Homo sapiens: one gene and its partner. The protein of the gene in region 2 purifies or fractionates together with the protein of the main gene of each other region. This does not show direct contact. Each region holds a gene or a part of one and is shown on either strand. Other genes may lie near its edges. The genes, in order: UBL7 and PPP1R14C.

The links.
Region 1: the proteins of PPP1R14C (region 2) and UBL7 fractionate together in Homo sapiens (co-fractionation; one large-scale study listed by BioGRID). This does not show direct contact.

What each region holds. Positions count from the first base shown.
Region 1 is NC_000015.10:74,454,532-74,458,347, reverse strand, and holds part of UBL7 (ubiquitin-like protein 7), read left to right. Parts: intron 1-1,676; coding exon 1,677-1,796; intron 1,797-3,816.
Region 2 is NC_000006.12:150,208,778-150,212,593, reverse strand, and holds part of PPP1R14C (protein phosphatase 1 regulatory subunit 14C), read right to left. Parts: intron 1-3,816. UniProt on the Homo sapiens protein: Inhibitor of the PP1 regulatory subunit PPP1CA.

The DNA of each region.
Region 1 (3,816 bases), on a different chromosome or scaffold from region 2:
AAGCAATTCTGCCTCAGCCTCCCGAGTAGCTGGGATTACAGGCACACACCACCATGCCCAGCTAATTTTTGTATTTTTAGTAGAGACATGGGATTTCACCATGTTGGCCAGGCTGGTCTTGAACTCCTAACCTTGTGATTCTGCCCGCCTCAGCCTCCCAAAATGCTGGGATTACAGGCATGAGCCACCGCTCCTGGCCAACATTGTGAATTCTTTTTCTGAAAGAACAGAAGTTTGGGATGAGTTAGGAAAGGAGAAGTTGGTCAGGGGAGGCTCCTCAGTATATTTGAGGTAGGTCTTCAGGGATGATTAGAAGGATTTTTGCTTGGTTGACTGAGTAAAGGAAAGGCAGTAAAAAAGAAAAAGTGGCGTGGGCAGTCCAGGTGGAGGAGGGAGGAATTTAAATATAATTAAATTACACTGAAAAGGTAATTTTTAATAGCTAAAGGATCCAACTGGCAAGAAAGATGTTTTCAGTCATACCTGGATTGGGTTCATCCTATTTTGTTGTTTTTCCATTGATTTAAATTGGGCAGCCTCCACAATGTTAAACTCCAGAGTTTTTCTGTGGATAGATTCTGTGTGAATCCTTTTTTTTTTTTTTTTTTTTTGAGACGGAGTCTTGCTCTGTTGCCCAGGCTGGAGTGCAGTGGCGAGATCTCAGCTCATTGTAACCTCTGTCTCCCAGGTTCAGGCAATTTTCCTGCCTCAGCCTCCTGAATAACTGGGATTACAGGCCCGCACAACCACAACTGGCTAATTTTTGTGTGTATGTGTGTATATATATATATATTTCTTTTTTTTTGAGACAGAGTCTTGCTCTGTTGCCCAGGCTGGAGTGCAGTGGTGTGATCTTGGCTCACTGCAACCTCCGCCTCCTGGGTTCAAGCAATTCTCCTGCTTCAGCCTCCTGAGTAGCAGGGATTACAGGCGTCTGCCACCATGCCTGGCTAATTTTTGTATTTTTGGTAGAGACGAGGTTTACCATCTTGGCCAGGCTGGCCTTGAACTCCTGACCTCAGGTGATCCACCCACCTCGGCCTCCCAAAGTGTTGGGATTACAGGTGTGAGCCACCGTGCCCGGCCCTAATTTTCGCCATGGCCCAGGTTTCGCCATGTCGGCCAGGCTCCAAAAGTGCTGGGTTTATAGGTGTGAGCCACCACATCTGGCCAGATTCGATGTAAGTCCATTTTATGAGTTTATATTTGCAAATAGTTGTTGAAATGTATTTAATTGGCTAGGCATGGTGGTTCACGCCTGTCATCCCAGCACTTTGTGAGGCTAAGGCAGGAGGATCCCTTGAGCCCAGGAGTTAAGAGACTAGTCTAGGCAACATGGCAAAACCCCGTCTCTACAAAAAACTACAAAAATTAGCTGGGTGTGGTGGCATGTGCCTGTAGTCCCAGCTACTCAGGAGGCTAAGGTGGGAGAATTGCTTGACCCCAGGAGGTTGAGGCTGCAGTGAACCGTGATGGTGCCATTGCACTCAAGCCTGGGCAACAGAGTAAGACCCTGTTTTCCAAAAAAAAAAAAGTATTTGTTAAGTTATTGAATAAGAGTATCTTTTAAAACATGTATCATTCTCCAGCTATCTAATCAAAATAAGGTTCTCGGGACAAAAACCATGTAAATTTGTTTTGAGGAGCAAAATATAAGTGGACAGTTCTTTTTTTAGATCTGATCTACTGTGGTCGGAAGCTAAAAGATGACCAGACACTTGACTTCTATGGCATTCAACCTGGGTCCACTGTCCATGTTCTGCGAAAGTCCTGGCCTGAACCTGATCAGAAACCGGGTGAGTGAGGGGCAGCCCTTAGGCAGGCAGAGTTTCTGTAATATCCGCAAGGGAAGGATCTGTGTGTTCTTGAGGCACAAGCCTGGGTGGAACAAAGGGATGATTTACTGAGCTGATGATAAATGATATCTTTATTACTTATTGGATTAGACCATGCTGATAAACAGAGTCCAATTTTGACCTTCTTACTGCCGGCATCACTAATGGAAGATTTGTTTCTCCATTTTGTTTTTTGTTTTTTGGTTTTTTTGAGACAGTCTCACTCTGTTGCCCAGGCTGGAGTGCAGTGGCACAATCTTGATCTTGGATCACTGCAACCTCCGCCTCCCAGGTTCAAGTGATTCTCATGCCTCAGCCTCCCGAGTAGCTGGGATTACAGGCATGAGTCACCATGCCCAGCTAATTTTTTTTTTTTTTTTTTTTCTGAGACGGAGTCTCACTCTGTCTCACAGGCTGGAGTGCAGTGGTGTGATCTTGGCTCACTGCAAGCTCCGCCTCCCGGGTTCACACCATTCTCCTGCCTCAGCCTCCCAGGTAGCTGGGACTACAGGCGCCCACCACCAAGCCTGGCTAATTTTTTTTGTGTTTTTTAGTAGAGACGGGGTTTCACCGTGTTAGCCAGGATGGTCTCGATCTCCTGACCTTGTGATCTGCCCGCCTCGGCCTCCCAAAGTGCTGGGATTAAAGGCGTGAGCCACTGTACCCGGCCTTCAATTTTTGTATTTTTAGTAGAGACGGGGTGTCTCCATGTTGGTCAACCTGGTCTCGAACTCCTGACCTCAAGCCATCCACCCCACCTCAGCCTCCCAAAGTACAGGCACCATTCCTGGCTTGTTTCTCCACTTTCTAAGTTTGTCATCCACTGTTTCCTAATGGGACAGGGAGTTTGTGTCTACTTAAACTCCTTTAAGTTAACAGTTTATTTTTTAGTGATACAAAGTAAACTTTGTATCCTTTTGTTATTATCGTTGTTCTCATTAGAAAAAAGCTGGAAACTTTTGGCACTTTCCTAATGCTGCAGTTTATTCCCTTGTTAACAAATCTTCCTACAAACTGCCTCAGGTGGTGATTTGTTCAGTTAGCTAACTGCTCTTGCTATACTGGTATTTTCCTGAAGATATTCAAAGAGTATTTAAATAGCTCTTGGAGAAAATATACAAAGCCTCAGATGCCTTTTTGGTTTATAAATAGAAGGTGCTTGGAATTCATGATTTAAATTTTGCATGTGTGTTTTAAAAGCCTCCCTAAGAATAAAGCTAAGCTGTGTAAAAGAGATTAGCTTTGTTACACTGGCAGGTTGACATCTTTTTATAATGTTCATGATTGCTGTGACTAGTTATCAGTTTGAAATTTACCCCCCTTTCAGTTCTAACTGTAAAAGACAAAAATGTCTTTCATACCCTGATGGGAAGTGAGAAAGAGGAACAGAGTTCCTGACATCCAGAGGTTGGCCTGGCACTCACAGCCAGGCCCTGGAATCCTTTTGGGGATCATGAACAATTGTACAGATCCCCAGTAGCAGTCAAGGCCACTCTGAGACCACTATGGATTAAGACAAAAACAAGATCCCTATTATTGCTGAACAGAAACACAAAAACATGAGCATTATCCAAACCACAAAGGTGACCAAGTATCTTTCTATCTTGGCTGATGAGAGTAACAGCTGCTTCTTGGCCAATTACAGCTTCCACCTTGCTCTAGTTTTCCTTCCTTCTAGGTAAGAGTTATTAAGATACTCAATTATAAAATCACTCCCACTGCCTGAAAGCATCCTATCCAGAGTAAAACCTCACTTCTTTAAATTTTTCCCCAAATCAGCCAGACAAAACCAAAATCCTGTAAGAAGTCCTTTCTGGCCGGGTGCAGCAGCTTACGCCTGTAATCCCAGAACTTTGGGAGGCCGAGGTGGGCGGATCACCTGAGATTGGGAGTTCGAGACAAGCCTGACCAACATGGAGAAACCCCGTCTATACTAAAAATACAAAATTAGCCAGGCATGGTGGTGCCTGCTTGTAATCCC
Region 2 (3,816 bases):
TTTAAAGGAAATGAGAGAACAATTAGTAACTAATGCCCTCCGCAGAACAGCACAGCAATGGGTTTTTCTGCAAATATAATTCAAATAGTTTTGACGCCAGCCAAGTTAGGCCAAACAGGCTTTGACTTGCATAGCAGTGTAGAGCCTCGCCCTACACAGTAGGCATCTTCAGTTAGGCATCTTCCCCTTAGGACTGTGCACGGCTCTCTGTTAGGTATTGCACTGACCCATTTTCCCCAACCCCTGAGATCTGGGCTGTCCCATATGGTAAGCATATGTGGTAAGCACATTTGAATACATTAAAATGAAATACAACTCAGTTCCTCAGTCGCAATGACCACATCTCAAGTGCTCAATAGCTACACGAGGCAAGTGGCTACTGTGCTGGAAAGCACAGATGGAGAGCACTTGCATTGTAGCAGAAAGCTCTATTGGACAGTGCTACCCCAGAGTACACTCGCCCTCTGGCCCAGAAGTTGGGAAGCAAAGCCCCTTCCCCTCTCAAAGGGGCTTGACAGGAGTAAAGAAAAAAATGCCAGGCATCTCAAGGTCACTCCTACTACCCAAGGGCATGTGATGAGAAACCCTGAGCTTGGTTTTACCAGCCAGAAAGCTGATGCAAACAAAGCCCAGATCTCAAGGGTTGGGGAAAAAACCTCAAGTGATTGAGTCATCGTTAACAGCCATTAGGCATCTGCGCTTTTTACCAACCTATGCTGCTTCTCAGAAATCCCACCCTGATTTATCAGAGGCATAGGAAGAGAAAGGCATCCCGCTCCCAGCTCAGCATGCGTCCCGGGTGTTCTGAATGTCAGTGAAGCTGAAACAAAACCCAGGTGAGAAGAACATAGAGACCCAGAGGCTCTTGAGGGAGAGTCCTGGGAAGCAAAGACAGCACCTAGTACCAAGTAGAGAATCCTGTAAATTGGTACTTAATATTCTTAATGAGAAGTATGGAAATATTCTAAATTTGATTGAAGTCCTATTTAACTTTATCTTCTGTATGCTGATCTTAGAGCAGTATCACTGAATGACCTTAGTGATAGATCAAATCACTTACAAAGGAGGGAACATGCCCATGGCCCACCATGACGTCCCAGAGCTTAGTTGTGTTTGGGCATTTTCCCACATTAAAGGTGTGTCCCTAAACAGTGGCTCTGGTGACAAAAAGTGAAACAACTGTCTTCACAGCTGCTGGGGAAAGTTATCAGCTACTCCCTGCCCCACATTAGTGAGAGGCCCTCCTGTTGGTACCCATAGCACGAGGCCCTGGATCACCTCTACACATCTTTCTTGTCGTACATTTGTTGAGAACCCAGAGTCCGCAGAGTGCAAGGCACTGTGTGTCAGCCACAGTGAGGCCCTGGCACTGGGGGACGGGCTGTCTAAACACAGCTCTGACAAACACAATGACATGCAATGGCCCCAAAGCCACAGACAAACCTGAAGCGCTTTAGTGATTCAGGGAGAGAGAAAACTCCGCCAGGGGCAGGCAGGGAAGTTGCACACAGGAGGGAGGAGGTGAACTGACCTTGCGGAATGACAGGATTTGAACAGGTTTAGAGGGAAGGGAGAGCACTCCCAAGAGGCAAAATGGTAGCAGGAGGCAAAGAGACAAGATGAATTCTAAATGTGGGTGTAGAAAGGTCCTTGGCCAGGAAGCCAGTCAGCTCTGGGCTGCAAATATGCACGTCGATGGGGGCCAGACAGGTGACAGAAATGGAGCAGGCTGAGGGGCTATACAGTAGAGTGAGGAGTGCAGCAAACTGGAGAAAACATGGCCTGAGGGAAAGCAGCAGGGAACACGCCATTCCCACCTCCTGTCACCTTCTAGGAATATGTGCTCAGTGCTGCTGGATTTTCTACGTTTTCAGGAATAACTGAAAATAGAGTTTTTTAATGTAAAAAAATTCCAATTTTTAAAGCTGTCCGTCAACTTCTTAAAATATTGTGTAGGATAAACAAAACCCATTGGCCCATAGGCTGCCGGTTCCCCTTGTCCTGCAGAGACTGTCACACTGAAGGCTCCATGGCTCCAGAACAAGACAGGGGAATGACAGAAGGAAGAGATGGCCCCACTGCGGAGCCCGGGATAACAGGGAGGAGGCAGGAGGCTGTGGGAATGTCATGTATCAGGTGCGAAGCAACAGGGCTTGAAGATGATCCTGGCAAAAATAAGATTTTAAAATAGTGATAATAGGGAGGAATAAACAGATGGAGTTTGGAGATGAACTGGATGAGGGATCGGGGGAAAGAAAAGGTAAAGATAAGATCCAGGTTCTGAGGCTGAGAGGTTTTGGAGAAGGACAGTAATGACGGGAGCACACCGGGGCTCTGAAGACACCTCACAAACCAACACACAGTGTAGGCTTGGCCATCACCAGCCCCCTTGCCCCAACTTGCAAGCAGCAGTGGGACTCCGCATTGCCACTGCACTGGGAAGCGCTGCAGAACCTGGCGCTGGGCATGCCACGGATGAAGCTCAGAACAGGCTCAGGTACCAGGATGCAGAAATGCAAGCAAAGCAGGGTCCTGAAACACAGCTGGCCCGCAGTGACAACACACACACACACACAAATATATACACAAACATACACAAATATATACACAGACATACACACACATGAATACACACAATCCACACCACTCATACACACACATGCACACACACATACACAAACATATACACATACACACAGATGAATACACTCCACACCATTCATACACTCACATCCACACACACACACACACAAATATATACACAAACATACACACACATGAATATAAACACTCCACACTACTCACTCACATGCATGCACACACAAATATATATACAAACATACACACACGAATACACACACTCCACACTACTCATACGCTCACATGCACACACACACACACAAATACATACACAAACATACACTCCATGTGAATACACACATGGATGAATACACAAACATGAATACACACACTCCACACCACTCACATGCATACACACACACAAATATATACACAAACATACACACAGATGAATACACACACTCCACACCATTCATACACTCACATCCACACACACAAACACATACACAAACATACACACACATGAATACACCCATTCCACACCACTCATACACTCACATGCACACATACACACATACACAAATAAACACACAGATATATACACACACTTCTAACTAGCCAGAAAGTTTACACTGTCAGCCCTGTCTGATGTCACATTAGCTTTTAAAAAATATAAACGTTCACCCCTGCCCACAGCAGTGAAGGGAGCAGGCAGGAATGTTCAAGCTAAAACCTCACCTGAAGATGGATCATGGTCTCCAAGCTCTAGGAGACATAGCTTGGCAGCTTCCTGGAAATGACTGTGGCTAACAGCTCTCATCCGTCTCCATTTCAAAATAGGGATGGCAACGTAACACGGGATTAAACTCCTGTGCAAATTGTGGCAGCTGATGGAGAAACGTGGGGTGGCAGGGGTGGGGAGTGGCAAATGTCAGCTTATTATGGCCTGTTCAAACACTCATCTGAACAATAGCCACAATTTCTTATAGCTCATCTTTCTATAGGCCTATGGGAGCAAACTGGCATAGGAAGCGTATAAAAAGAACTGAATCCTTGGGACTATGTGAGCTGTCTATGAAAACATTTACATCTCATGTTTTCATTGTAATGACAATCCAAAATAATTCCTGTAAGCAAGCACAGTCTAAGAATAGTCTGGACAGCCGTGCTATAACCACGCTGTGCCGGGCTGCTCTGTGTTTACACATTGGCATCAAGCAGAATTATGTTAATTGT